Homo sapiens: one gene and its partners. The protein of the gene in region 1 binds, or shares a complex with, the protein of each later gene. Each region holds a gene or a part of one and is shown in the gene's direction. Other genes may lie near its edges. The genes, in order: SIN3B, HDAC2, MORF4L1 and PHF12.

The links.
Region 2: the proteins of SIN3B (region 1) and HDAC2 are in contact, whole or in part, in a cryo-EM structure (PDB 8BPB), measured with the Homo sapiens proteins. Residues at the interface, in NP_056075.1 of Homo sapiens: Ile397, Gly398, Ser399, Ser400, Tyr401, Pro411, Lys412, Cys413, Ser414, Gly415, Arg416, Thr417, Ile419, Cys420, Glu422, Val455, Leu456, Asn457, Trp460, Val461, Ser462, Phe463, Pro464, Ser465, Trp466, Ser467, Glu468, Asp469, Phe472, Lys476; in NP_001518.3 of Homo sapiens: Lys9, Asp19 (codon at 1,225), Gly21 (codon at 1,231), Asn22 (codon at 1,234), Tyr23 (codon at 1,237), Tyr24 (codon at 1,240), Gln27 (codon at 1,249), Gly28 (codon at 1,252), Pro30 (codon at 1,258), Lys32 (codon at 1,264), His34 (codon at 1,270), Arg37 (codon at 1,279), Tyr46 (codon at 1,306), Gly47 (codon at 1,309), Arg50 (codon at 1,318), Lys51 (codon at 1,321), Lys59 (codon at 2,484), Thr66 (codon at 2,505), Lys67 (codon at 2,508), Tyr68 (codon at 2,511), His69 (codon at 2,514), Ser70 (codon at 2,517), Asp71 (codon at 2,520), Asp100 (codon at 4,562), Asp105 (codon at 4,577), Gly106 (codon at 4,580), Glu109 (codon at 4,589), His142 (codon at 5,155), Lys144 (codon at 5,161), Lys145 (codon at 5,164).
Region 3: the proteins of SIN3B (region 1) and MORF4L1 are in contact, whole or in part, in a cryo-EM structure (PDB 8BPA), measured with the Homo sapiens proteins. Residues at the interface, in NP_056075.1 of Homo sapiens: Cys394, Arg396, Arg402, Ala403, Pro405, Lys406, Thr407, Tyr408, Ser462, Phe463, Pro464; in NP_996670.1 of Homo sapiens: Gln217, Gln219, Tyr222, Ser348, Tyr350, Glu351, Val352, Ala353, Pro354, Pro355, Tyr357, His358.
Region 4: the proteins of SIN3B (region 1) and PHF12 are in contact, whole or in part, in a cryo-EM structure (PDB 8BPA), measured with the Homo sapiens proteins. Residues at the interface, in NP_056075.1 of Homo sapiens: Glu307, Phe311, Leu318, Glu322, Val323, Tyr324, Glu325, Asn326, Leu328, Arg329, Cys330, Ile331, Leu333, Phe334, Asn335, Glu343, Leu347, Pro350, Phe351, Lys354, Phe365, Lys395, Arg396, Glu490, Glu493, Leu494, Val497, Tyr545, Arg546, Ile547; in NP_001028733.1 of Homo sapiens: Leu20 (codon at 4,825), Met21 (codon at 4,828), Gln23 (codon at 5,482), Ile24 (codon at 5,485), Gln25 (codon at 5,488), Leu27 (codon at 5,494), Leu28 (codon at 5,497), Pro30 (codon at 5,503), Pro31 (codon at 5,506), Lys32 (codon at 5,509), Thr33 (codon at 5,512), Asn264, Leu266, Val267, Leu269, Val271, Val273, Phe275, Thr276, Asn278, Arg279, Ser280, Arg282, Cys292, Pro293, Leu294, Pro316, Asn317, His318, Ile319.

What each region holds. Positions count from the first base shown.
Region 1 is NC_000019.10:16,860,305-16,867,540, forward strand, and holds part of SIN3B (paired amphipathic helix protein Sin3b), read left to right. Parts: intron 1-2,047; coding exon 2,048-2,255; intron 2,256-2,347; exon of another isoform or gene 2,348-2,579; coding exon of another isoform or gene 2,580-2,675; exon of another isoform or gene 2,676-3,339; coding exon of another isoform or gene 3,340-3,375; coding exon 3,376-3,492; intron 3,493-5,105; coding exon 5,106-5,344; intron 5,345-6,068; coding exon 6,069-6,252; intron 6,253-7,236.
Region 2 is NC_000006.12:113,954,005-113,961,240, reverse strand, and holds part of HDAC2 (histone deacetylase 2), read left to right. Parts: intron 1-1,222; coding exon 1,223-1,335; intron 1,336-2,474; coding exon 2,475-2,592; intron 2,593-4,547; coding exon 4,548-4,622; intron 4,623-5,089; coding exon 5,090-5,228; intron 5,229-7,236. UniProt on the Homo sapiens protein: Histone deacetylase that catalyzes the deacetylation of lysine residues on the N-terminal part of the core histones (H2A, H2B, H3 and H4).
Region 3 is NC_000015.10:78,889,872-78,897,107, forward strand, and holds part of MORF4L1 (mortality factor 4-like protein 1), read left to right. Parts: intron 1-1,117; coding exon 1,118-1,143; intron 1,144-1,612; coding exon 1,613-1,701; intron 1,702-2,340; coding exon 2,341-2,442; intron 2,443-3,667; coding exon 3,668-3,756; intron 3,757-4,186; coding exon 4,187-4,359; intron 4,360-4,948; coding exon 4,949-5,033; intron 5,034-7,111; coding exon 7,112-7,196; 3' UTR 7,197-7,236. UniProt on the Homo sapiens protein: Component of the NuA4 histone acetyltransferase (HAT) complex which is involved in transcriptional activation of select genes principally by acetylation of nucleosomal histones H4 and H2A.
Region 4 is NC_000017.11:28,948,290-28,955,727, reverse strand, and holds the start of PHF12 (PHD finger protein 12), read left to right. Parts: upstream 1-4,209; 5' UTR 4,210-4,767; coding exon 4,768-4,833; intron 4,834-5,481; coding exon 5,482-5,663; intron 5,664-7,438. Other genes in the region: SEZ6 (seizure protein 6 homolog), read left to right, coding at 1-122.

The sequences.
Region 1 (7,236 bases):
CAGCCGCGTGGCAGCCAGGGTGGATCGGGTTGAGCATTCCCTTCAGAGCAGTCACGATTTGCGTTTATCCCAGCAGTAGCCTCAGGCATCTCTGCAGCTTTTTTGTTGGTCTCTTTCCTTCCTACGTTTCCATCGGCTTGTGGGTTTTCCTTGTGAGCAGGGTTGGCATAGGGTTCTTAAATACGGGGAACGACGGAGCCCACATCAATGAGGGGGACGTCGTTATGCGAGGGTGGGCTGGGTGGCTAGGTCACAGCAGGATTGTGGCACCAGCAGTCAAAGTAACTGCAACTTTTTTTTTTTTTTTTTTTTTTGAGACGGAGTCTCGCTCTGTCGCCCAGGCTGGAGTGCAGTGGCGTGATCTCGGCTCACTGCAACCTCTGCCTCCTGGGTTCACGCCATTCTCCTGCCTCAGCCTCTCCCAGTAGCTGGGACTACAGGCGCCCGCCACCACGCCCAGCTAATTTTTTTTTTGTATTTTTAGTAGAGACGGGGTTTCACCGTGGTCTCGATCTCCTGACCTCGTGATCCGCCCGCCTCGGCCTCCCAAAGTTCTGGGATTACAAGCATGAGCCACTGCGCCTGGCCATAACTGCAACTTTTTTGGTAGGATCTGATGTTACTGCTTAGAGACGGGGTCCTGCTCTGTTGCCCAGGCTGGTCTCAAACTCTTGAGCTGAAGTGATCTTCCCGCCTTGGCCTCCTGAGTAGCTGGGATTCCAGGTACACACCACCAGGTCTGATACTATTTTAAACAGAAATCCAGGTGGCATTGTAGGGTCATTTGCATTAAAGCCTTCCTGTTGTCGACCACAGCCATGACATTATGACTTTCAAGCTTGTGTCCAGAGAGGGGTTCACAGAGAGAAGTCTCCCTCATGAGAGGAAGACTGTGGATCAGAGATAGGCAAACTTGATCTCTGAGGGGCCAGATGGGCTTTGTGGAAATGACTCAAACCCCTCTTGTGCAGGCAGCCACAGGCAGTGCGTACACAAGTGGATGTGACTGCAGGCCAGTGAAACTTTATTTACAATGGGATGGCTAGGCATGGTGGCTCACGCCTGTCACCCCAGTACTTTGGGAGGTTGAGGTGAAAGGATCACTTGAGGCCAGGAGTTCAAGACCAGCTTGGGCAACATAGCAAGACCCCATCTCTACAAAAAAATTTTTAAATTGGCCCTGCATGGTGGCTCACACTTGTAATCCCAGCACTTTGGGAGGCCGAGGCGGGTGAATCACCGGAGGTCAGGAGTTTGAGACCAGCCTGGCCAACATGGGGAAACCCCGTCTCTACTAAACATACAAAAATTAGCCGGGCATGGTGGTGCATGCCTGTAGTCCCAGCTACTCAGAAAGCTGAGACAGGAGAATTGCTTGAACCCGGGAGGTGGAGGTTGAAGTGAGCCGAGATTGTGCCATTGCACCCCAGCCTGGGCGACAAGAGTGAAACTCTGTCTCAAAAAAAAAAAAAAAAAAAAATTTAGCCGGGTGTGGTGGCACATGCCTGTGGTCCCAGCTACTGAGGAGGCTGCGGTGGGAGGATCTCTTGAGCCCACGAGTTTGAGGTTGCAGTAAGCTGAGATCATGCCACTGCCCTTGAGCCTGGGCAACAGAGTAAGACACTATCTCTAAAAAGAAAATACCAAACCAAACAAAACACAGGCAGTGTGCAGACTGGCTGTGGCTTGCCACTCCCTGGCCTGAAGCCTGGCCTCTTCCAGTCAGGGAACATCAGGGGTTCCAGCTTCTGCCAGTTTAAGTCATCTTTTCTGGTGTATTTCAAAGCCTTACTGTGAGTATGGGATTAATAGGCACAGGAAGGGACCTGGTGTGTGACAGATGGGTGGGAGGCCCATTCATTCACACACCCCGGGACTTGCAGTGACTTCCTGTGTATTGGATTCTTCCGCCTCTCATTCGCATCCATGATGTTGAATTCTGACTCTGTTTAACTTGTAATGTCCACATGAAGCCATTCTAAAATCTCCAGATCCCTCTCAGAAGGCCCTGGGGATGACCAGTTACCATGTGTCTTTATCTTTGAAGGAAATTTCCAGAACTCTTTGCACAGTTCAAGTCCTTCCTGGGGGTAAAAGAGCTGTCCTTCGCGCCACCCATGAGCGACAGATCCGGGGACGGGATAAGCCGGGAAATTGATTATGCATCCTGCAAGCGCATAGGATCCAGCTACCGGGCACTCCCCAAAACCTACCAGCAGCCCAAGTGCAGTGGGAGGACAGCCATCTGCAAGGAGGTAGCGCTCCCTGGGGCTCAAATGTTCGTTGACATGGTGCATCCCCCACCCCTCCCCAGCAAACACCCGATACCCCCGTTATGAATGAAATGCTGTGTGCTCAGCCCTCCTGAATGTTGGGTTATGGGTGGTGCTGGGATGTGGCCCGGCAAAACCACCTGAGCAGAGACAACAGTGTTGTACCCTGCTGGTAGTTTTGGCAAAACACAGAGTGCCAGGGATAACGTGGAGTTCGGCTTATTCATCTGTTATTTGACTTAGGTTTATTGCTGCCATGATTCTGCTCTGTCCCGGGCTCACTGACCTCAGTGTGTTTCTGTTTAGCTTGACCATTGGACACTTCTCCAGGGTTCGTGGACAGACGATTACTGCATGTCCAAGTTCAAGAATACCTGCTGGATTCCAGGATATAGTGCAGGGGTCAGCAAACTCTGGCCCACGGGCCCTGGCCCGCTGCCCGTGTTTGTAAATAAAGTTTTACTGTCACACAGACACAACCATTCCTTTACATATTGCCTGTGGCTGCTTTTCTCACCACAAAGGCAGAGTTGAGTATTCATCTGGGATGGCCTGCAAAATCTGAGATGGTTGCTGTCTGACCCTTTGCAGAGAGAATTTACCAATGTCTGAAATGAAATCGGCCCTCCGGATCTGCAAGTTCCTCATCTGTGGTTTCAACTAACCATGGATTGAAAATACGTGGGGAAAGAGAAACCAAAAAATGACAATACAGCAATAAAGCGTAATCCACATTTTAAGAATGCAGTGTAACAATGATCTACACAGCATTTACATTGCATTAGGTATAAGTATTCTAGAGATGATTTTGCATAGGATATATGCAAATAGGATTCCATTGGACATCAGGGACTTGAGTATCTGTGGATTTGGGTCTTCAGGGGTGGTTCTGGAACCAATCTCCCAGGATACCAAGGGAGTGTCCACTTGACCAAAGTCATGTTTTTCCTTAAAAACTTTATGCACCTTCCCATTTGTATAAGGCAGTTGGTATTATGTATCAGGATGGTATTATGTATCTTGGTACTTTCTACACTGGCTAACAGTAAATCTTGGCTCCTGGGGCATGCAGCGTCATTCACGGCATTTCCTCTTGGTGCAGGTACTGAACGACACCTGGGTCTCCTTCCCTTCCTGGTCTGAGGACTCCACGTTCGTCAGCTCCAAGAAGACACCGTACGAGGAGCAGCTTCACCGCTGTGAGGACGAGCGCTTCGAGGTGTGTGTGCTGCTGTGGCCGGGTCCCCCGGCATGTGCCTGTTCCCCTTCTCCATGGGACATGCATCCTGATCCTCCTCCACTGCCCCAGTCTCGTTTGGAGGAGCAGGAATTGCAGCACATTCCAACAGCTCCTGGAAGCTTCCTGCCGGGTCTTGCTGGCCTTTGGGCTGGCTACCAGATGGCACTTTTCTTTCTGTTTAAAAATTTTGTTTGGGCTGGGCGTAGTGGCAGACACCTGTAATCCCAACACTTTGGGAGGCCAAGACAGGTGGATCATTTAAGCTCAGGAGTTTGAGACCAGCCTGGGCAACATGGCGAAACCCCATCTCTACCAAAAATACAAAAATTAGCCGGGCGTGGTGGCGGGCGCCTGTAATCCCAGCTACTCGAGAGGCAGAAGCAGTAGAATTGCTTGAGCCAGAGAGGCCGAGGCTGCAGTGAGCCGAGATCACACCACTGCACTCCACCCTGGACAACAGAATGAGACCCTGTCTCCTAAAAAGTTTCTTTAATGTAAAAATTAAATTTATTTTTATTTTATTTATTTATTTATTTTGCTTGCTCTGTTTCCCAGGCTGGAAGTGCAGTGGCGTAATCATGGATCGCTGCAGCCTTGACCTCCCAGGCTCAAATGATCCTCCCACCTCAGCCTCCTGAGTAACTGGAACCACAAGTCCATACTACCATGCCCAAGTTGTTTTTTTTACTTTTTTTGTAGACATGAAGTCTCACTGTGTTCCCGAGGCTGGTCTCACACTCCTGGCCTCAAGCGATCCTCCCACCTTGGCCTTCCAAAGTGCTGAGATTAAAGGAATGAGCCACCACACCTGGCTAATTTTTTTTTCCTTTTTTTAGAGACAGGGTCTGTATTGCCCAGGCTACATTAATTTTTGTAATTAAAAGTTTTATTGGCTGGGCACGATGGCTCACGCCTGTAATCCCTGCACTTTGGGAGGCTGAGGTGGGAGGACTGCTTGAGGCCAGGAGTTCAAGACCAACCTGGGCAACAAAGCAAGAGCCCATCTATACAAAAAAAAAATTTTTTTTTTTTTTTGAGACAGAGTTTCACTCTGTCGCCCAGGCTGGAGTCCAGTGGCATGATCTTGGCTCACTGCAACCTCCACCTCCTGGGTTCAAGCGATTCTCCTGCCTTAGCCTCCTGAATAGCTGGGATTACAGGCACACCACCATTCCTGGCTAATTTTTTTATTTTTAGTAGAGACGGGGTTTCACTATGTTGGTCGGGCTGGTCTCGAACTCGTGACCTTGTGATCCGCCCATCTCAGCCTCCCAAAGTGCCAGGATTACAGGCGTGAGCCACCGTGCCCGGCCATAAATTTTTTTAATTAGCCAGGCATGGTGGTGCACACCTATATTCCTAGCTACGTGGGAGGCTAAGGTGGGAGGATTGTTTGAGCCCAGGAGGTTGAGGCTGCAGTGAGCTTTGATTGTGCCACAGCACTCAAGTCTGGGTGACAGAGCAAGACCCTATCTCTTAAATACACACACCCCCCCCCCAAAAAAATCCTCTGGTCTCTGAGGTCCCAGGCTCCTCTCTGAGGCCTCTTGAGTTCCCCAGTGGCTGACCCCGTCCTGCCTTCCTTTCCATAGTTAGACGTTGTCCTGGAGACGAACCTGGCCACAATCCGTGTGTTGGAAAGTGTGCAGAAGAAGCTGTCTCGGATGGCGCCGGAAGACCAGGAGAAGTTCCGGCTGGACGACTCCCTGGGAGGCACGTCGGAGGTGATCCAGCGCCGTGCCATTTATCGCATCTATGGCGACAAGGCCCCGGAGATCATCGAGAGCCTCAAGAAGAACCCTGTCACCGCTGTCCCCGTTGTCCTGAAAAGGTGCCCTGTGGCGTCCCGACTTCCCTTCCCCTTCCCCTTCCCCCTTCCCTCCCCTCCCCTCCCCTCCCCTCCCCACTGCAGGGAGCCCTTGGAGAGCTCATTAGTGCTGTTTGTCAACAGGTGTCATCTCCAGGGGTGGTCTCTGAGGCCTAAGGGTGCCTTCCTGTATTTCCCAGTCTCCCACTCCTGAGAGGAGAGCACTGTGACCTTCTAGGACTTTCCACCTTGCACATAATACATCTAGACATCTAAATAACTGCTTTAAGAGTCAGATGCGACCACTACACTGTGGCTTGCATTTTATTTAATGCTGCATTTCGGATGCCGTCCGGCGCTAGTTAACAGGCATTTATCAAGTGGTCACTTTCAGGCAGGTGCAGTGCTTGGCCCTGGGATTATGCAGCTGAGTGAGGCAGACCCAGTCCCTCTCTTGGGACTCACAGCTGAGCAGGGGACCTGAGTGGTTGAGCCAACAGCCATGCGGAGAGTGCTGGGTGCCAGGGAGGAGGTGGAGGAACCGGGAAGCCGGCCACATTGGCTCTGTAAGGCCATCACGCCCTCCCTCTGACGTGCACAGAGCCCACTGCACAGACTAGGCTGGGAGCTGGCTGGGCCTGGGTCCTGGACCCCCAGTCAAGTCCCAGAGGAAGACAGGCCAGCCCTGGGATGCTTCAGGGAGGATGCCCTGGCTTGTCCCTGGTGCTGACCTCTCTTCCCCCCGCAGACTGAAGGCCAAGGAAGAGGAGTGGCGGGAGGCCCAGCAGGGCTTCAACAAGATCTGGCGGGAGCAGTATGAGAAGGCGTACCTCAAGTCCCTTGACCACCAGGCTGTGAACTTCAAGCAGAACGACACCAAGGCCCTGCGCTCCAAGAGCTTGCTCAACGAGATCGAGAGCGTCTACGACGAGGTAAAGCCTTCCCTAGCCCTGCCGGCCGGTGGGGGTGGGGTCCTGGCTCTCCCGACCGCCGGGTCTGTGCCTCTGTTTCCCTGGTGGTTAGGCAGGGTAGTGGCATTGCCCTTTCAGGGCTGTGTTGAGGCGAGGGTTCATGTCTCTGTGATGCCCAGCCTGTGGCCTGCCCTAGGAGAACCAGCAACTCTGCCATTGTCTATCTGTTTGTTTGTTTGGAGACAGAGTCTCGCTGTGTTACACAGGCTGGAGTGCAGTGGTGTGATCTCAGCTCACTGTAACCTCAGCCTCCTGGGTTCAAGTGATTCTTCTGCCTCAGCCTCCTGAGTGGCTGGGACTACAGGCGCACACCACCACACCCAGCTAATTTTTATATTTTTAGTAGAGATGGGTTTTCACCATGTTGGCCAGGCTGGTCTTGAACTCCTGACCTCGTGATCCACCCACCTCAGCCTCCCAAAGTGCTGGGATTACATGCGTAAGCCACCGCTCCTGGCCGACTCTGCCATTGTCTAGCGAAGTCTCCGTCCCTCCCGTGGGGCAGTGATGGACTTTGGCTTAGGTAGTGGGTGGCAGCAGCCTTCATTTCTTTCTTGCCGACTGTGCCAGGCACCGGTGTTAGCAACACAGAAAGAGTAATGCATCATCTGACCTCACTCCTGAACCTGACTCTGCTGCGGCATTATTCTGATTTTACCAGTGGGGAAACTGAGGCACAAGAGGTTGCATTTGCCTGGGCTGGTCGCAGGGGGCCAGGGCTCTGAGTCATTGGGTTCGAGGCTTTCGGCTGCATGTCCTCACTGCAGGCTCACAAGGCCTGAGTCATAGAACCAAGGCCAGCGGGGCCCTCAGGTTGCCAGGAGCTGGGCCTGTTAGTAGCTGTGTGTAGGGAGTGCCTGCTTGCAGGATCCTGAGGTGGGAAGCTTGGCAGGGTGCCGGGCGTGGTGATAGCCAGCTGTCGGGAAGGTCCTTGGACACTCTGAG
Region 2 (7,236 bases), on another chromosome or scaffold:
TTTAGGGAGGACTTTGAAAGATTTAGTGGATAAATTGCATTTTTTATTCTAGCTTTTATTGTAATATATAAACCCGTGTTGAAATGATAGACTTCAAACCATTAAAATAGCTTGACTGTCCTGACCCTGTGGGGAATTAGTTCCAAGACTTCCACAGATAGCAAAATTCATGGGTGTTTAAGTTCCTTCAATAAACTGGTATAGTATTTGCATATAACCTATGTATATCTCCCCTTACACTTTAAGTCATCTCTAGATTACTCATAATACCTAATACAATGCAAATGCAGTGTAAATAGTTGTTACACTGTATGATTTAGGGGAAGATTACAAGGAAAAAAAGTCTCTACGTGTTTCCAGCAGACACCACCATCTATTTTTTAAAAATATTTTCAGTCTGCAGTTGATTGAATCCACAGATACAGAGGGTTGACTTTATATATTTGAGAGGCTTCTTGTTATTTACTATTATAGGAAACACTGGAGCTTTACCTAAAAGTATTAATTTTATTGAAATTTAGTTGATGAAAATCTGTGATTTTGTTATTTTCTCTTTTTTAAATCTTATGCATAAGTTTAAAGACATTGTGATATAAGATGCCGTTTAAAAAGACAGGCTAGGAATTACAACTTTTTAGTCATGAAGAATGAGACAGTATTTTTATTACCTTGAAAAATGTAATGCTGTGTCTTAGTGGAGCAAAACCTCATTTAGGACCTAAATTTCAGTTACCAAAACTTCCCTGATGGGCTTTAATATGGACACGGTATGTTTTAACATGCAAAACGCCAATTATGAGATTTCTGAAATGCCAGCAAATCATCCAAAAAGCAGTATTTGCTGAAAAAATTTTAAATCATACCAATAAAACTCAGAGAACTTAAAAGCATGTGAATTTGCCAGAGAATACAGAAAGCAGGCATCATTTCAAGGAACAGAAATTTTAAAAATTGGGGGTAGCTAAAAATCAGAAAAGCTTGCTTTCCTTAATCTACAAATAAATATAATGTGTAATAATGGAGTCTTCAGCTGGTAAAAGTGTGCGTAGCGTCTTAGTCATCTGATACAGTTTGAAAGTTGCAAAATAAATCTAAGTTGCTAAGGTTTTAAATAAATTTTGTTAAGTAGTAAATGCCTTCTAATGATAGACATACATAAATTCAAATAGTTCATGGAGGGTCTCTTGTCTGTATTGTTTAGTTTGTGTCTTTTCTATTTTAGGTGATATTGGAAATTATTATTATGGACAGGGTCATCCCATGAAGCCTCATAGAATCCGCATGACCCATAACTTGCTGTTAAATTATGGCTTATACAGAAAAATGGAAATATATGTGAGTATTCCTTTTAATACATATTCAGCACTGATCTTTTTTATTTTTTTTTAGCTACTGTGAAACTTTGTCTATTATTCCCCTTTTGAGGGCATTTAGCAGATGAAAAGATCTGGAAGAAAACAAACTTCTTTTTTCGTTTATTCTTAGGAGATGAATAAGAATGAGAGCTATACCCTCTTTTTCCTTTTCCTTTAACCATTTAAAAAAGTTCCCCCTACCCTAGGCTTTCATGGTTCTGGAGAACAACTCAGTATAGCAACAACTCAGTGTAGCATATTAAGTATTTTTTTTTTTTTTTTTTTTTTTACAATAATTGTTAATCTGCCTGTGCTGCTGAAAAGAGTTGACCTGGGACTGTTACAAAATAATAACACATAAAATTAATCCCACAAATATTTGCAGGGCATATAATACATATGGAATACTGTGTTAGTGTGGCCAAGCATAGTACAGATAACACAAGTGCAACAGCTGCCTTAATGTTTTTGTAGATAAAGATGAGGGTATGTATAAACAAATACAGACACGACAATTAGCTATTTGGGGAGAAAAGAAATATTTAAAACAATTAATGCTAGGCAATATATGTGAATATGTGAATTATTTTCAGTTACATGTAGACATTTAGAGAAGAGGGGAAGTTAGAATAAGACTCAGTCTGGAAGTCTTGTGGAAGAATTGTGTCATACGTGAAATTGAGCTCTTCGGAACAAGGAAGATTAGGATAGAAAAAAGGACGAGAGGTCGTGAACAAAGATTTAGAATTGAAAACTCTTGTAGTGAGTGATTTCATTGATGAAATCACTGGATGTTTTATCATGGAAAAGGAGAGAAAGTAGAGTTTATGAACATATGGATTTGACTTTTTACTCGAACTGTTTCCACTAAAATAAGGAGTGATTAAATCATAGTTGATATGCCTGTGTAATGCTTTTAAAGGAGTTTGAATTAGTTTTGAGATTGATTACTGTTTTCTAAAACACATATAAGTTTGGGTTAGTTTTGGAATTTATATATTTTGTTCTGGTAGACTTGGTTCTTTTGAGGGGACCGATAGGGGAATTTGTATATTTGTTTGATAATACTGATATAACCGGTTGTAATTCCACAGTTCTGACATTTATTTCTCTTCACAGAGGCCCCATAAAGCCACTGCCGAAGAAATGACAAAATATCACAGTGATGAGTATATCAAATTTCTACGGTCAATAAGACCAGATAACATGTCTGAGTATAGTAAGCAGATGCAGAGATGTACGTTTCTAAGTAAAAAGTAGTTTTGCTTTGATAAATGTAAATTAGTATTTTTAGGAGCTTAGAATGATCTAAATCTGAATATTTTTCCTGTTGGTCTAATATGTTACAGTTATTTACTGATTTGAAAAGTCATTTTAACACTACTAAAGCTACTTAAGAAAAAAGTAAACCTATCTGAAGCTTATTGGTTTGCAAAACTGCTGTTTGGGTATTCTTCTACTCCTAGTTTGCTCCCCTGATAACTTTGGGTTAATACATATTGGTAGGGAGACCTCACTCCCTTACTCCCTCGCTTCAAAAAAACAAAAACAAGATTACACTTTGATTAGCCTTAGCTTGGCATGTACATATCTCTTGTCTTGTCTTTGTGTACTTCAGTTAACCTGGACTATAATACACATCTCTTTTTCTTTGTTAAGATATTAGTGAAGCTTTTGATTCTACGTAATGTTCTCTTGTACAGGTTAAAAGTATTTTATTTTTAGAGATTAGTAACAAATTGGCTTGAAGGTAGAATGCAAAAGTCAACCTAAAATTATTGGAACAGTATCTTTTAAAGCTTGATACCAAAGTTCATTCTCATTAGTGTTTGTATTGACTGACTTCAGTGATGATTATACTAAATTAGTGTAGGTGCTAGACATCTCATATTTACAACCTCATACACATTTCTGCCATATCTTGTTTGATTTGTTATAATGCTACAATGTAACTAGAACATGTAGTATTTAATTTTTTTTTTTTCAATGAAGATTCCAACTTAGATGCAAAAGAGGCATGAGTAGCCCTTGGGCAAACAACATAACAGGATTGATTTAAAACCCACATAATAATGAGTTCTATTAAGCTTATGATCCTGGCCAGGTGTGGTGGCTCACGCCTGTAATCCCAGCACTTTGGGAGGCGGAGGTGAGTGGATTACCTGAGGTCAGGAGTTCGAAACCAGCCTGGCCAACATGGCAAAACCCTGTCTCTATTAAAAAAGTACAGAAAATTAGCTGGGTGTGGTGGTGCGCGCCTGTAATCCCACTACTCTGTAGGCTGAGACAGGAGAATTGCTTGCTTGAGCCCCAGAGGTGGAGGTTGCAGTGAGCCAAGCTCACGCCATTGCACTCCAGCCTGGGCGACAGAGTGAGACTCTGTCTCCAAAAAAAAAAAAAGATTATGATCTCTCTGTGCAGTAAGAAACTAAAATTCATTTCTTATAGTGCTTGTGACTTAAGGGTATACAAAGATATTAATATACAAAACAAGGACCCTTATTCTTGAAGAGGTTACAATTCAAGGGCATAGGGAAAGACTAAGAAAGGGTTACATACATCTGCCATATCCTTTCATTCTCTCAGTGCTAAGGAACTAAATGTGTGATCGTTTATCTGTAAATGTTTTCCTTGTTGTCTTTAGTATCCTATGTTTTGGCTCCCATGAACCTAGTTAATTCTTAGCAACTTTCAAGATCAAGATTAGCCATGGGAATAGGCAACCAGCTGTTACATCTTTTTGGTTTAGTAACTTACTGACATGCATTTCAAAGTTACAGATATTATAGGTATTTAAGGAGTTTCAAAGAAAGTAAATTATAAAGCAATTGAAGTTGCTTTTAGAATGTTAACTTATTGTAATATTAAGGGGAAAGGCCTAGAAAATTTAAGCCTGTGTTTTAATTAAATAAGAATTGTTGTACTTAGACAACTATTGAGTTCTTGTTAATAGACAGAAATATTCCACAGATAATCCTGATAAGATTTGATGATCTTTCACAGATAACACTTTAATTACCTTGGATAAAACAATAAATATATTTTAAAGTTGGAAACTTTATATTATACTGTGAAGTGTATGTTTGATGATTGCATCAAGCAAAAAAGTATTTGTGGGAAATAGTTTTTGTAAGAAAAGGCTTTCATTAATTTGCAGAATGTGTTGAAATTAATGAAATCCATCTTCCACAGTTAATGTTGGAGAAGATTGTCCAGTGTTTGATGGACTCTTTGAGTTTTGTCAGCTCTCAACTGGCGGTTCAGTTGGTAAGTGCTAATGCAATCAGATTTAAAAGTTGATCTGAACTTGGTGTGTTATCTTTCGGGTTATTTGTGTAAAACAGAAGTTTTAATGATTGTGAATTTTGATAACAAAAGGAAATCAGTATGTTTATAGTAAAGTACAATTTACTTTCAAACCTCTATGTTTTATGATTATGACTTAAACGCTTTTTAAACTTATTTTCACTTGGAGACTTCATTCATTCCCTTTGTCTTCTAGGTATCATTGTTACTACCACTTTCCACATAAACCATTATTTAATCTCAGGTTGCAGCTCTAGGAGAATATTTTTCTAAGGAGTAACTCCTATTTGTGTTATAGATGATTTCTGTTAACTTTCATGATTTTAAGCTCTTGCTTATGCATGGCATACACTTGTAGTGTTTTTGTCTCATTCTACTACTTTTTTATGATAAATGTTTAAAAGGTCTATCTTGTTTCTACTTCTTAGCTGGAGCTGTGAAGTTAAACCGACAACAGACTGATATGGCTGTTAATTGGGCTGGAGGATTACATCATGCTAAGAAATCAGAAGCATCAGGATTCTGTTACGTTAATGATATTGTGCTTGCCATCCTTGAATTACTAAAGTATGTTAATTTATATTGATACTCTTTTCAGTGATAAAGTGTTTTCATTAAAACACAATAAATAAAGTCTATGGCTTTAAAAAATATTAGGTAAACCATAGGTTGAAATAGTTAATGGTGAATTTTCTATGAATTCATTACAAAACAATGAAGAAATGCAGGAAATTTGCCCAATTCTTCAATTATTAAGACTTAGAAGTGTGGCCAGGCACTATGGCCCAGGCCTGTAATCCCTCCACTTTGGGAGGCTGAGGTGGGCGGATCTCTTGAGCCCAGGAGTTTGAGACCAGGCTAGGCAACATGGCAAAACCCCATCTCTACAGAAAAAAAATTAGCCAGATGTGGTGGCATGCATCTGTAGTCCCAACTACCCAGGAGGCTGAGGTGGGAGTACCTGAGCCCAGGAAGTTGAGTCTGCAGGAAGCCATGTTCCTGCCACTACACTCTAGCCTGGGCAACAGTGTGAGACCCTGCCTTAAAAAAAGAATTAGAAGTGTATAAAAGGCCAGTGCCGTGGCTCATGCCTGTAATCCCAGCACTTTGGGAGGACGAGGTGGGTGGATTATGAGGTCAGGGGTTTGAGACCAGCCTGACCAACATGGTGAAACCCCATCCTACTAAAAATAGAAAAATTAGCCGGGCGTGGTGGCGTGCGCCTGTAATCCCAGCTACTCAGGAGGCTGAGGTGGGAGAATTGCTTGAACCTGGGAGGTGGAGGTTGCAGTGAGCCGAGATGGCACCACTGCAGTCCAGCCTGGGCTACAGAGTGAGACTCCATCTCAAAAAAAAAAAAGAATTAGAAGTGTATATAAATGTCAAAACTCCCATTAAATACCCTTTTTTAAAAGTAGTTTGGCAATTTTCATTTTAGTTAGTTTCAACTAGTAAAAAATGACAATGACCTTGGAAGTTTATATTCTAGTATTTTGGATGTTTTAAACTGAAGACAAAAATTTGAAGCCAGTGTTAAAGGAAATTTTTTTACCTATTGAGTTAGTCTAACTGCCTAACTTCCATATCTGAATGAGGCTTTGTTCTCTACTGATGGATATAAAATTATCTCTGAGTTGTTGAAGGAGTTATTTTTCCTTATCTGTGGCTGCAGTTTGAGAGAGAGATCTATAGAGGTACTTAGGAATTTGGATGTTCGCAATGTTAGTTATTTTTTGCCATCAGTTATGACACATCTTAGCAGATTCTACTTTGTATTATACTGAGCTAGTGTTTTTTGCTTGTAGTTATTCCATGCATGCTATCCATAGAGGCTGACTTTTCAGTCAACTTAAAATTGATACTGACTCCTCAAATAAACAGTGATTGAGCAGTATCAGTGTAACATCTTGCCTGCTCATCAGGAGCAAAGGAAAATCATTTGCAATCATTTGCCTTGTTTTTTAATTGACTGTTGATGTTGGTTCCAGTGTCTTCAACTCTTTGAGCAAGTTCTTGCCCACTCAGCTAATAGTTTTAAACAACTTTAATTTGTCTGGACACATTTTTTTGGGTGGTGTAATCAAACATGATTTAATTAATTGACTTGGTGCACAGCTTTCCTTGCTTATCTAACACGTGAGCCGCTCAGAAACTTTATTTTGATCACAGCCTCATTTCTGTTTTTTTAATTTTGTGAAGAAATTTTGCTGTACTATGGTATGCTGTTTATAGTGTTATGAGAATATTCTTATGAGTGCTTAGTCTGGAAATATCAATTTACATTGTATTGTTTTATTTAGCACAGTTATGGCACCATTATATAATAAATACAATGCTTTGCCATCTAATAATATCTCACTTCACTATACTTCAAAAGGATGACATGAGAAGTCCATTTTCCCCTTATTTTGACATGAGTATACACTGGTAACAAAATGTCATGACATGGTGATTCATGTGACTCCTAAACTGCGTTTGAGTTACAACTGTGTCACTAATCTGTGGTGCTCCAAGCACCAGTTTGAAGTCATGAGAGTACCACATGTAGCCTCTGTCACAGCTAATCGATTCTGCA
Region 3 (7,236 bases), on another chromosome or scaffold:
AATCCATAATCATGGGCTCTATAAACTGTTTCCTTTGTGGTCTAGAAATAATAATGTAAAAAAGCAAAATTAGGCCAGGCATGGTGGCACACGCCTGTAATAGCATTTTGGAAGGCCGAGGTATGCGAATCACTTGAGGTCAGGAGTTTGAGACCAGCCTGGCCAACATGGTGAAATCCCGTCTCTTAAAATACAAAAATGAGCTGGGAGTGGTGGTGGGTGCCTATGGTCCCAGCTACTTGGAAGGCTGAGGCAGGAGAATCGCTTGAACCCGGGAGGAGGAGGTTGCAGTGAGCCGAGATCACCCAACAGACAGAGCAAGACTCCATCTCAAAATAAATAAATAAAGCAAAATTAGCAATTTACCATTTGACAGTATATAAGTGACGTGAGGTAAGTTGCTGTTAGAGATGATAATCAAGATGAGGAGACTTAAAACAAAAAAATTACACAAATCTAAAAATATTTTGGGGAACAAAAATAATTGGAAAAAAATTTTAACCTTTGACACCTTTTTTTTTTGGTGGGCCTAATAATGTAGTATATACTATAACATATATTAATATAACCCTGGAAGAACGAAGTTGTTTACTAAAGTGTTCTTGGTTTGCTTTTCTTTTTTTTTTGTCTTTGAGACAGGGTCTCTGTCACCAAGACTGGAGTGCAGTGGTGCAATCAAGGCTCACTGCAGCCTTGGCCTCCTGGGCTCAAGCAATCCTCTCACCTCAGCTTCCCAAGTAGCTGGGACTATAGGCGTTTGCCAGTATGCCCAGTTAATTTTTGTATTTTTTATAGAGAACAGGATTTGCCATGTTGCCCAGGCTGGTCTGGAATTTTGAGCTCTAGAGATCCACCCCCTCTTCACCTCCCAAAATGCTGGGATTACAGGCATGTGCCACTGCGCCTGGCTTGGTTTATTTTTTTCTATTATGTGGAGAGAGATGGGAATTTAACCAACTATCAATAAAAATCCTTGTGTCTGAGTAGGACACATATTTACCACCTGATCCTTTATCCAAGTTAGTATTTCTCTGTGAACTTAACCCTGATAAAGGGAGTTGAAACAGAGGCAGTTTTACTGGAAATAATTATTTTTCTTTTTTTTCTCTCCTTTTAGGAAAACGAAAAAGAACAAACAGAAAAGTAAGAATATTAACTTTCTTAACGTTAATTTATGTTACCTCTATGACATTGACGTTTTTATTTTGAAAGCTATGAAATTTTGGAGTAAGCTTATGTTTATTGATTATCTCAAATAGGAGTCTCACAGCAGTGTTATAAAATAGGTACATGGTGGTAGAGACCTCTTTTTGCCAAGGAGAAACTTGTGAGCATTTATTTTCATCTGCTTTAGTCTTAATGTCTCCCACTGAGAAGATAACATTTATAAATAAATGGAAGATGGTGATACTAAATGTTGTCTATACTAAATGTTCGGTAGAGCTCTTCATGAAAGTTGTATTTTTGGTAGGAATATGATTCTTTAACTTAGATTGAGGTAACAGCTGTGTAATGGAGAAATAATGAAAAGGGTTAATGTGTCAAGAGACTATTTTCCTTATAGAGTTTGTTAAATTAGCTAAATGAGACCCCTCCCCGCCAACATTTACAGCACCTGGAAATGGAGATGGTGGCAGTACCAGTGAGACCCCTCAGCCTCCTCGGAAGAAAAGGGCCCGGGTAGATCCTACTGTTGAAAATGTGAGTTTTTCTTGTGTTTATGAATAGCATGTTAGGATTTTTAGTCTCAGTTACATGACATAACCATGGGAGCTTTGATTATCTACAAGATTTGCTTACATGGTTAATACCTGAAATTAAAAATTTTCTCTTTTGGGGGTAAAGGATAAATTTCTGTATATCTTTATTTCACCTGTAGCTCCAGATTTACCTACCCAATTGATCATTTGTTGTGTAAGCTTCATGTTCACCTACAAGACTATTTCTTTGGTGTTACGTATTTATTTTTAGGAGTTAAAGATGTACCTTTAAGATGGTTGTGTTTGGAATAGTTTTGATATCCATGGTAAATAAGAAAATACTAAGTTAAAATGTATCAAGTCAGGGTGTTTCATTTCCTGAACAAGAGGAACCTTACTGAAGAATTTTTACCTTTACAAGAAAATGCACTAAATAGACTATAGTTCAGGTCAGATTCTTTTCTCCCAACAGCGAACCGCGTATGGTCGTTTTTATTAATGATTTTAAAAAATGACAGTACAGCTGTATGCTTGGCTACTTTAAGATTTATCCCTAGTGCCTCTAAAAGTCAGCTCCCCTCCATGTTTGGTATTTAGCAAGAAAGGTTAGGTTTTTAATACTCCTCCTGTTTCTGTTTAGGAGGAAACATTCATGAACAGAGTTGAAGTTAAAGTAAAGATTCCTGAAGAGCTAAAACCGTGGCTTGTTGATGACTGGGACTTAATTACCAGGCAAAAACAGGTAACTTGAAAAGCTACCCAGATTGTTAAGCTATATGATACATTCTTGCTAGCAAAAAAAGTTTTTAAAGGAAAATGTTATATTGACTTGAATTATTAAGGTATGACTGATAAAATAATATTTTAATTTAGAGGCTGAACACTTTAGAACTACTACCAGAAAGAGTAAGTTAGAAGAATAAAAGTTCACATATAAATTTTATGAGGTTATAATGATAAAGGTGGAAATAACTCATTTTTGGAGATTGCTAGGGCAGGAACTCGTTCTGAAAATTCATAAAGGTGAAGAAGCATATGTCTTACTGTCATTGCTAATGGTAGGCCATAGAAAGCACACACCACCACCTGCAAGGTATTCATGACCCTGAAAAGAACCTGAATCTTACTAAGCGCCTGGATCTATTGTTAGTTTGCAGGAAATAGGATGTTTAATGGAGTGACATGTTTGTCAATCGTTGAACTCTATAATTGAGAATTTTATAGGACAAATGAAGCTATTTGAACAAATGGCATAGGTAGGGTTAGGGATAGTTGGGGGAGATGATTAGGGACTGCTTGAGGATTATGAGACTTAAGAGACCTATCAGTCATATACAGTATGTGGATATAGTTTGAATTCTGATTTGAATCCTTTGGAGGGTTATGCAGTTACAGCTAAACTGCGAAGATTCAAGCATGGCTGTATCACTTATTATTTGTGAGTTTGGACAAGTTTCTTAGCCTTTTTGTGCTTCTGTTTTTGCATTTAATGGAATAATAGTTTGTATTTGACAATGCTGATGAGAGGACGAAAAGATAATTATTTTAATGCTTTAGACTAGATCTAGCAAATAGTATGCATAACAGTAAATGATGACTTGGTAGTACCACAAAGGCACATTCGTGTCTGTTATGTGTGTGTGACAGATTGACATTTTTAAAAGCTGTGCTGTTCTGTCTAGTAGAGTCTCATTTGGCTGTTTAAATATATAGATGCTCCATAACTTAGAATGGGGTTACATCGCAATAAACCCAGCAGAGAGTTGGAAAATTAAGTCCAAACCATTGTAAGTTGGGAACTGTCTGTAGTTTCTCAGCCACATTATCCATGTTTTAAGTGCTGAATAGTATCTTTCCTAATTTGAAATACTGTTACTGTTACCTGATCTTTGTATAAAAACTTGCCTGGTATGATTTTTCTTTAAAAAAGAGAGTGCTTATATTTAAGCATATTTTTGTCTTCATAGCTCTTTTATCTTCCTGCCAAGAAGAATGTGGATTCCATTCTTGAGGATTATGCAAATTACAAGAAATCTCGTGGAAACACAGATAATAAGTAAGAATATACATTTTTCAGATGACACTCAAAAGACATTTAAAAAAGTTTCTAAATAAGTCATCTGAAACTTGTACTGACTCCGAAACATTAATACCACCAGAAACTAGCAAAATAGAATTTCACTGCTTTGACACAGGAGTTGGCTGGCTGACTTTTTCTTAAAGGGCCAGATAGTAAATATTTTAGGTAAAATTTAAGCTATCATGTAGGTATTTGCATAACCATTTAAAATTTAACCATCTGAAAATGTAAGAATCATCTTAATTGCTTTAGTTTGTCAAACCCTGCTTTCATATGCCCTTTAAAAAAATCTCAGCTATGGTTCATTATTACTAGCTCAGCTTTTAATTCTTTAAATTGGTTGAATTATTCTCTATGTCAGTTATTTTTATTGACCAGTTTTGGAATATTTTTGTTCATTTATCAGGGAGTATGCGGTTAATGAAGTTGTGGCAGGGATAAAAGAATACTTCAACGTAATGTTGGGTACCCAGCTACTCTATAAATTTGAGAGACCACAGTATGCTGAAATTCTTGCAGATCATCCCGATGCACCCATGTCCCAGGTGTATGGAGCGCCACATCTCCTGAGATTATTTGGTAATATGTCATGTAGAAAATAATGGATTTTACTTTTTGGGGGGTCTTCTCTAAATGAATAAGAGGTAAAGTAATTAACTTTCCAAAACATGACTCCCATTTTAATTTGAACTTTTATCTAGAATGTTAAATAGCAAAATCTCTTTAGGAGCAAGAGTTTTAAAAATCGTGTATTTTATTTTATAATTTTTTTTTTTTGAGACAGACAGTCTCTGTTGCCCAGGCTGGAGTGCAGTGGTGCGATCTTTGCTCACTGCAACCTCCGCCTCCTGGGTTCAACAATTCTCCTGCCTCAGCCTCCCAAGTAGCTGGGATCACAGGTGTGCACCACCACATCTGTGGTAATTTTTGTATTTTCTGTAGAGATGGGGTTTCACCACGTTCGCCAGGGTGGTCTTGAATACCTGACCTCAAGCGATCGCCTATCTCGGCCTCCCAAAGTGCTGGGATTACAGGCGTGAGCCACTATGCCCGGCCTAAAATCATGTATTTTAAAGGAATTGGTGGTGTTTGCTCACATAATTAAAATACATGGTTGTAGTGCCCCTGCCTTGGATGTAACTTTGGATAAATTCTCTTGTTTAAACAGTACGAATTGGAGCAATGTTGGCTTATACACCTCTGGATGAGAAGAGCCTTGCTTTATTACTCAATTATCTTCACGATTTCCTAAAGTAAGTCTGTGCTTGAAATTATAAACATGGATTTGAAAATTAGCGTGTAATGGGAGGGATTGGCAGTATAGATGCTAAAACATTAAACATTATATTGGTACAGGCATAGATAGTTGGTAATGGAGCAGTAAAAGTAAGTGCAAACACATGGGAGTCTCAGAAATGATAGATGGTATATAGATGATATATTGGTGCAGTAGGGGAAAGCAGTGGAGTCTGGTAGATTGGTGATAAGACAGCTGACAGTTTGGAAGAAAACAAAGCCACACTTGTCATGTACCAAAATTCTAGATGAATCTGAAGTTTAAAATTAAATTGTTAAGATAATGAAAGGAGAAATGTAATATTTTCATAGTTCTATAGTGTTCCATTTATGATAAATGGTTGGTACCTTTAATACACACAGAGTTCTTCGGTAAGAAATGAACAAACCAGTGAAAAGTAGGACAGGAAATTTACATCAATGGCAGCACAAAGGACCATTAAAAATATGTCAGAAATAATGATGAAAGTATAAACTGTCAGTAAAGTAGCACTTGTCAGATTGGCTAAGGTTTAAATGTTTGAAGAAATGGAGAAAAGGGCAATCCTGGTTTCTACAAGTTTTTGGAGGGCATTTTTATAATAGTGAAGAATTTGAAACAAGCACTTATTAAAAGGGTGAGGTCACTCTAAACATACTGATAAAGATGTCCATGTTTTCAATTGAAAAACAGCCAAGCTGTAGTAGAGGAGTATGGTGTAATTGTTACTTGTAGAGAAACATTATTTTAATCTTTGCATAAGATCTGGCTTTCCAATGTGGATCTTAGTTAATACTGGGTTATTTCTTGGGCGTGGTGTTGGAAGGGAGGGTGGGAGTTTTCAGTTTCTACTTTGTATACTTCTGTATATGAATTTTCTCATTACAATCGTTTTACAGTAAATTTAAAACTGCAACGTGGACTTGAGAATGTAGGCAAGATTTATCATCTTTTCTTTACTAATGATAAATACCTTCTTTGGACCTCAGTTTCTTTATGGAATGTGCTCTACTACTTGACATTTCACGTTCCCTTTTATGTAATTAAAAAAAAAAAGTTTATTCATTTAGAGATGGAGTCTTGCTCTGTCGCCCAGGCTGGAGTGCAGTGATGCGATCACAGCTCACTACAACCTCCGCCTCTTGGGTTCAAACGATTCTTGGGCCTCAGCCTCCCAAGTAGCTGGGATTACAGGTGCACACCACCATGCCTGACTGATGTTTGTATTTTTAGTAGAGATGGGGTTTTGCCATGTTGGCCAGGCTGATCTTGAACTCCTGGCCTCAAATTTTTGTGCCTCGGCCCCCCAAAGTGCTGTGATTACAGGTGTAAGCAACTGTGCTTGGCCTGATAGGATTTTTTTCTTTTTTCTTTTCTTTTCTTTTTTTTTTTTTTTTTTTTTTTGAGATGGAGTTTCACGCTTGTCCATGCTGGAGTACAGTGGCGTGATCTCAGCTCACCACAACCTCTGCCTCCAGGTTCAAGCAATTCTCCTGCCTCAGCCTCCCGAGTATCTGGGATTACAGGCATGCGCTACCATGTCCAGCTAATTTTGTGTCTTTAGTAGAGACGGGTTTCTCCACTTTGGTCAGGCTGGTCTTGAACCCCAACCTCAGGTGATCAGCTTGCCTTGGCCTCCCAAAGTGCTGGGATTACAGGCATGAGCCACCACTCCCGGCTGATAACGATTTTTTTTTTAGAAAATGTCTAGATGTTCTTTTAGGGTAATGCTGTCATGTAATAGGATAATAACTGTTTCTTAAAGATGGTTCAAGCTCCCAAGTTGGTATTCTGCAGACATAACTGTTCTTTGCTGTTTAGAAATAGGGGAGTAACTCCAGAGTTCATTCCTTTGTATATGTATAGTGTTGTTCATTGTATAACCTTATTTATTTACCTGAATTGTCATTATGTGTGGTTTTACTGTGAGAGAATGTCTGGTTTAATGTATTTTAGGAAAGTGTTTTCTGTGGCTTATGTATATAATATATAGGAAGAGATTTGGATCAAGATAATGACCTTTAAAAATTTTTGTAATGAATATTTTATTTTTAGGTACCTGGCAAAGAATTCTGCAACTTTGTTCAGTGCCAGCGATTATGAAGTGGCTCCTCCTGAGTACCATCGGAAAGCTGTGTGAGAGGCACTCTCACTCACTTATGTTTGGATCTCCGTAAACA
Region 4 (7,438 bases), on another chromosome or scaffold:
CATCTACCTGTGGGAAGAACATAGCTGGAGCACAAGCATCAACAGCCAGCATCCTGAGCCTCCTCATGCCCTGGACCAGCCTGGAACACACTAGCAGAGCAGGAGTACCTTTCTCCACATGACCACCATCCCGCCCTGGCATGGCAACCTGCAGCAGGATTAACTTGACCATGGTGGGAACTGCACCAGGGTACTCCTCACAGCGCCATCACCAATGGCCAAAACTCCTCTCAACGGTGACCTCTGGGTAGTCCTGGCATGCCAACATCAGCCTCTTGGGAGGTCTCTAGTTCTCTAAAGTTCTGGACAGTTCTGCCTCCTGCCCTGTCCCAGTGGAGGCAGTAATTCTAGGAGATCCTAAGGGGTTCAGGGGGACCCTACCCCCACCTCAGGTTGGGCTTCCCTGGGCACTCATGCTCCACACCAAAGCAGGACACGCCATTTTCCACTGACCACCCTATACCCTGAGGAAAGGGAGACTTTCCTCCGATGTTTATTTAGCTGTTGCAAACATCTTCACCCTAATAGTCCCTCCTCCAATTCCAGCCACTTGTCAGGCTCTCCTCTTGACCACTGTGTTATGGGATAAGGGGAGGGGGTGGGCATATTCTGGAGAGGAGCAGAGGTCCAAGGACCCAGGAATTTGGCATGGAACAGGTGGTAGGAGAGCCCCAGGGAGACGCCCAGGAGCTGGCTGAAAGCCACTTTGTACATGTAATGTATTATATGGGGTCTGGGCTCCAGCCAGAGAACAATCTTTTATTTCTGTTGTTTCCTTATTAAAATGGTGTTTTTGGAAAAAAAAAAAAAAAAAAAAAAAAAAGCAATGGCCAGGTGAATGATGCTTTCTTGGAGGGACGGGAGGTGGGAGATAAATGGGATATGGACTTCAGGACCAGAAGGCATGCTAGACCCACCAATCAATCATCTTCAGATTTTATTTTATTACTACTGTTTTTGAGATAGGGTCTCACTCTGTCAACCAGGGTGGAATGCAGTGACTGGATCACGGTTCACTGCAGCCTCAACCTCCAAGGCTCAAGTGATCCACCTCAGCCTCCTGAATAGTTAAGACTATAGATGCAGGCCACCACACATGGCTAATTTAAAAAAAAATTATTGTAGAGATGGGGTCTTACTATGTTGCCCAGGCTGGTCTCCAACTCCTGGGCTCAAGTGATCCTCCCACCTCAGCCACCCAAAGTGCTCAGATTTTATTTTAAAAGAAATTATTGCATGCAGTTGAACAGGGTCCCCTGTACCAAAAGGGACAGTGCAACAGATAGCAGGCAAAATCAGAGGCCCCAATGGCTGATGTTACAGGGATGTGGGAGCCCAGGAACCCCACTGCACATCCACCCAATGCCTTATTTCCTCCTCTTTGCCAGGTCCAGAACTACAGGCTGGCACACTCCCAAATCCCTTCTCAACGCCACTGATGCCCTTCTCAATGCTAACTAGGCTCAGGAAGTCTGATGCATCTCTCCTTCCCCTTATTTCTAAGTAAGCAAGGCTTGGGAAATTAGAATAGGAAACAGAGACTGATCCCCAAAACATGAAGCCCTAATCTGGCTTGGCCTTACAAAACCCTTAGATTGTCAGGAGCAGTGGTAATGCAGCTTACGGGCTTGGATCCTAAGTTAGGCAAAGGCCCTAACCATGGGCTCTGGAAAAAGGTGGCTGGGAGGATGTGCTCAAGTTTGCCCCTTCCCTATGGGCCCCAGCACCTACAAAGATGGAAAGTGCCCAGCGTTGGCCCCCAGTATGCACATTCCATGCTGAGAGGTGTGCCCTGCATTGCTGCTCTCCAAGAGTGACAGCAAGAGGCAGGCAACAGGAAATTATGGGAGCTCAGAAACCAGTAGAGAAAAATCCATGAAAGAAATAATAGCAGCAACCAGCACCTTCTGCTTCTACAGTCTTCCAAAAGGGAAGTCTTGACCACTCATGCTGCCTACCCCTGGCTCTAGCACAAGCCACCTTGAAGGATGGAGAAGCTCTTGTCCATGCAGAGTGCAGTGCCTAGATTAGCCACAAGAGGTCACTTCCAAAGGCGTCTGTATCCCACCTGCTCGCCCCTCAATCCCCCCTCAACTGTCAGGGCGGGAGCTCTCCAAGGTGGGAGCATTCCTTGGCCCCACTGGCCTAACCTCATCCTGCAAGTTCCAAGAGGAAGAGGTGTGAAGTTTCCCTGGCTCTTGTCAACAGAGCCAAGTCTTATTTCCCTCATTAGCCCATAGTTCCTATTATCAGCTGCAATTGATGGTGTTGATCAAAGCAAAGCCTTGTCCAGTGGATGGATGCCAATGGCTTACTTACCTGTTCCATAATGCCTCCAGGTTAACACAGCAGCACAGCTGGGCCCTGAGCAGTAGGAAAAAAAGCCAAAGAGAGAGGGCACATGAGGTTCTAAACTCTGAGAGCCTGTGACATAAAATATAGCCATAGGAGATAGAAAATCTTGCCTCTTTCATACAAACAATCTAGCTCAGCCCTCCCCTCTCTGATGGCCACATCTCTGGTCCACAGCTCCTGAAGTTTATTGTTGGCTCAGAATGGTAGAAAGCAGAGGGCAGCCAATTCACATGACATTCTCCACCCCACCATCCATGACCTTATCATTCTTTCCAGGCACCAAGAGGGTCATCAGAAAAGCGAAAAGTCAGGAAAACAGAAACCTAAGACTCCATACACTGACATCCCCACTCTGTCTAACTCATCCTCCTTACTGTCCCCAAAGCAAGCATAGTAATTCCTTAGACACAGTCGACATAGTGTAATGGACAGTGTCTGGCTTGAGAATCAAGAAATCCAATTCTTAGGTCTGCCATAAATGCACTATGTGACCTAGGCAAATCACTGCGCCTCCCTGTGCATCTGGAAAAGAGGGGATTAAATCAGATGGTCTCTAAACCCTTGCTAGTTTGACGACTCTGAGAATGCTGTGTCCCTTAACATTAAAAGTGGGCCGAGCACAGCTACGAAGCAACAATTCCAACTAAACCCCTAGTGTCAAGCACAACGATACAATTCTCTTTTCCACTGCTTCATCCACCATCAGGCAGCAATAACCAACCGCCCATCTCTGACGGCAATACCAAGGGGAGGAGCGGGCGCCCTGAAAAGGAGCATGAATCCCCGCCCAGAATGCGAGGCGGGCCCTCAGACTACAAATCCCGGCATGCAGCACTGACGCTCTCAAAAGTATCCCTTCCTGGCCGGCAAATGACTCTTCCCCGGGTCTATCCTACCATAGAGTGCATCGCACGCACATGGAACTACAGTTCCCACAATCCATCAGACCTATCGCGATTCTTGCTCCCAGGATGCAATGCGCCCCCGTTCGCCCTTTAGACCCTTTGGCGTTGCAAACTGGGAGTTGGAGTCCGGGGTACGCAGGTAGCTGGGCGTTGTCAGGATTACAAACTCTCCACTTTAGGCTTCCTCTTGAAGAGCAGATCTCAGGGACAGTGGTGAAGAGAGGGTGGTAACGGGCAGGCGGAACTCTCCAGTGCCACCACCACGCAAGGCAGGGATGCTGAGGATACAATTAACTGATAAAATTATCTGTCAGGAGCGGGAGAGAATTAGGAACCACAGTCATCCCACACGCCTCCAAAAGCGTCATTTTCTGTCTCAAATGGCTTTTCTCTTTACCAATATGGTGGCCTGGTCCAGCCACACCCGATGGTAGAACCAAACGGTCAAGTACAACATCCCTAGGAATACTGCTGTCACCGACAGGCGACCAGCTCCATCCAACACCACACCTTGCTCCTTTCTGTTCATGCCTGAGGACTCCAAGGGCATGATAGCCCATATCCCATTACCAAAATGGCGAAAGGAGCAGCTTTCTTGTGAGGGCCTGCGGAAGGCAATACGCCTGCGCGGGAGGCGTCTGTGTTATGGAGAGGAAGGGGGAGCACCCCCAACACGCCTGCGCAGAACAGAGTCGTCTTAGTTTGCACACAAACACCAATGGATGAACAGTCCCTAGCTTCCTGCGGCTGCGCCTTGACCCCTACAAGCTTTCTCAAGCGCCTGCGCGAGACCTCAGGTCCCGCCCTTTTGTCTCAGTGCGCTGGCGCAGGGCAGAAAGGTGGGGCTTCGGTCCTCCAGACGAATGCCAGCGCGGCTGCGCGCTGGGGGGTACTCCCTCACCGCGGCTGCGCGGGAGCCAGGCCGCCGGCTGTCACTGCGGTTGCGCGCGGCGAGCGCCGATCCCGGGGCGCCTGCGCGGGTGGCTTTGCGGGCGCTCGCGGTAAGTTTGCGCCAAGTGCGCGGCAGCCGGGACGCAGACGGCGGCGGCGGCGAGAGGCGGAGCCCGGGGACCACCCCCCATCACCCTCCCCCCAGTCACCTCACGTACCACAACCTCACGTAACCTCTCACCCCCCCTCCGATACCCCCAGCCCCGGGATGGCAGCGCCCGCCAGCCTTCCCGGCCGGACCGGCTGTCGCCAGTGCCGGCTTTAGCCTGTGGGACTAGGCCCCGCCGAGGCCTGACCCCCGGAGCCGGGACCCACTGTGCAGCCAGCAGCCGGGCCGGGACTGAGGGGCCGCTCCCCCCTCGCGGCCCGTCGGGAGGACGCTGTCGTCCCGGGGACTGGGGGCCGGGGGGTGGGGGGGAGCCAGGGCGAGGAAGTCGGGACCCGTATTGGGAAAAAAGCGGGGCCGGGGTCAGGAGCGCCCCCTCCCCTCACCTCCCCCCTCCCCCCGGGGTTGGGGGGGCCGGAGCAGAGAGCACCCAGCCCGGGAGGTGGATGAATGTGGGAGAAAATGGAGACCAAGACGATCGTGTACGACTTGGACACATCAGGGGGGCTGATGGAGGTAAGAGTGGCCCTCCTCATCTCCTTCCTCCAGCGCCGGGAGGGAACCTCCGCCCTCCGCCCCACAAAGCCAGTCCTAAACTCGAAGCGCCTAGATGGCCGAGGGAGGGGGATTCTTCCTCACCTAGCCTCTCCCTCCCCTCTTTGCAATTTAGGGGGCTGAGCTCAGCCTCCGAGGACGTTTGCAGCAGTTTCACCTACCCGCCGCCCTCGATTCGCTCTCCCGAGGCGCCAGCCCACTCCATCTCGTTGCACCGGCAGGCCTCCCCACCCCCTTCTTGTTGGCCCCTTTGTGCTTCCCCCAGCACGTCCGGGTACCGGGCTTTGGGCCTCTCCCGAGCGGGTCTTTGGAGTCCCCCACTGTCCATACAAGGAAGTGGCAAGAAGGGAACCGCGCACCCTCTTCCCATCCCCCTACCCTTGATCCTCCCCATTTGGAAGAAGCTGTTCTCGTTGTTGTGCTGCAGGAACGCGGTTAGGGTGGGCTCCCCCTGGTTCCGGGGGCTGAGAGATTCTGGGAGCAGCCTGGATGGGAGGAAGAAGGACAAAAGGGGGGAGAGGGGTGGGTGACGGAGAAACCGCGCCGGGGGGGCGACGGACCGCCCGGGAGCTCCGAGTGTGCACACACGCCGTTTGTATGTGTGTGCAGCAAATCCAAGCTCTGCTGGCTCCCCCCAAGACGGACGAGGCAGAAAAGCGCAGTCGGAAGCCTGAGAAGGAGCCCCGGAGAAGCGGCAGGGCCACCAACCACGACAGCTGCGATAGCTGCAAGGAAGGTGGAGATCTCCTGTGCTGCGACCACTGCCCGGCTGCCTTCCACCTCCAGTGCTGGTAAGGTCTGGGGACCCTTTTGGAGCTTCTTGGCGGACCCTTCTCTGCGCATTCCTTCACCCGGCCTGCCCCTGACTGCCGAAATAACGGGCGCTTGCAGCCGCTAGCTGACTTTCTGCAGCTGCCGGGGCGAGCACCTCCCCGCCCCCAGGTGTCCGCCGGGTTCTGGCAGTTTAGCGGGGAGGAGCAGCGGTGGGTCCGGACCCCGAGGTGGGGGTTGGGACGAGTGAAGAGAACCCCATATGGGATTGGAAGTCGCTGGGGAGCCGGGACAGAGCCGGCCGGGGACAGCCGGCAGTGGCGGGGGAGGAAGGGGAGGAGCTCCGGGCCCAGTGCCGCTTGCCTGCCCGCGCGCCCGCTGCCCTCGGGGCTCCTGCCCGGCCGGGATCTCCTCGGGGTGGGTGCGTGGAGCCCTCGGCCACCTGAGTTGCCCTGGTCCAGACCCCGGCAACCGGGCGCTTGTGGCTGTAGAAAAAATCGTGGAGGGTGTCTCTCGAGTCCGCCTCTTCTTTGCCTCTCTGTTTACAATATGGCGACCTGCCTTTAAATTATATTTTTATTCTCAGCGCCATTTTGGCTGCATATATGATTTGCAAACGTCTCTCGGGGGAACGGTGGGGACAGCCCCAGAGTCCTTTCTGCAGAAGCTCCTCGGGGGCCCCGTCTGGGATCTCGCCGCTTTGATCCCCTTTCTCTGCCTCCGCTTGCCCCCTGTTGCCTCTCAGAGCTGCCTTCCTTCCTCCTCCCTCTTCCCTCCTCCCTCCCGGCGCCGCTGCCTCTTAGGAAATCGGGCCGGGTTAGACAATTAAAATTGCCCTTGGGCGCCGATTTCATTTCTCCGCTCCGGATCGGCGAGCCCTTCGCTGCAAAATTCTTTGCTGCCAGAGGGAGGATTGTGTGCGGTGGCACTAGAAAGGCATTTTTAAGGAGCTGAGAGCTGGAAAGCCGTACGCTTTTTCCCCCTTACTGGACATGAGAGGAGGGGAGAGACCGAACCGAGAGGGAGGGACCTGAGTTGATCGCCCGCTGCGTGATCCTCCTCAGCGGCTCAGCCCAGGACAATCCGGCAAAGAAGAGTTTAAACTCCATCTTCTGCCGGCCGAAATCACCTCTGCCCTCCACAAAAATCCCACATCTGCGGCAGCAAACCCAGATTTCGTCTTGTTCTACTGGGTCTCGTTCTGTTGTTCTGCAACAGTTGACTGAGGCAGGGGTTTGAGAGAGGAGCCAGACTGGAGAGAGGAAAAGGGGGCTGTTCTGTGTTCCCACCAGTTGTTTGATGTTGCCTTTTTTAGCCCTCTTTTTATTTTGTTTTAAGTGAAATTTCACCGAAGGTCTCTCAACAGTTCCATTCACGTTCCATCTCTCGGTTTGTGGAGTAGTGTCTACTGTATATTTGTACTAATTGCAGGTTTGGGAACACTTATTAGACAGATGACTGATACTGAGCAAATTAAGTTTATGGTCAGAAGTTATGTAGGAAACTCCCATTACCATTCCCAAGATACTTTTGCCCAGGAGGGCACCCCATCCCAGCTTGTAAAATTGCTGGGACAAAAATGATTATCGTAGAGGAAGTTTTGCTGCTGGCTTTAAAATTTTTATTATGAAGTGACTAAGGGTCTGTGGTTTTTAGCCTTTACTTCCTATAAGGTGTAATCCACCTGGAGAAGATATTTCTGGTCACATTTCTTTTGCTATTCTTAGGAGAAATTTGTGCCTGAATATACGTTGTGTTGCTTACCAGTTATTCCCAGTTGCTTACATTTTTTTAG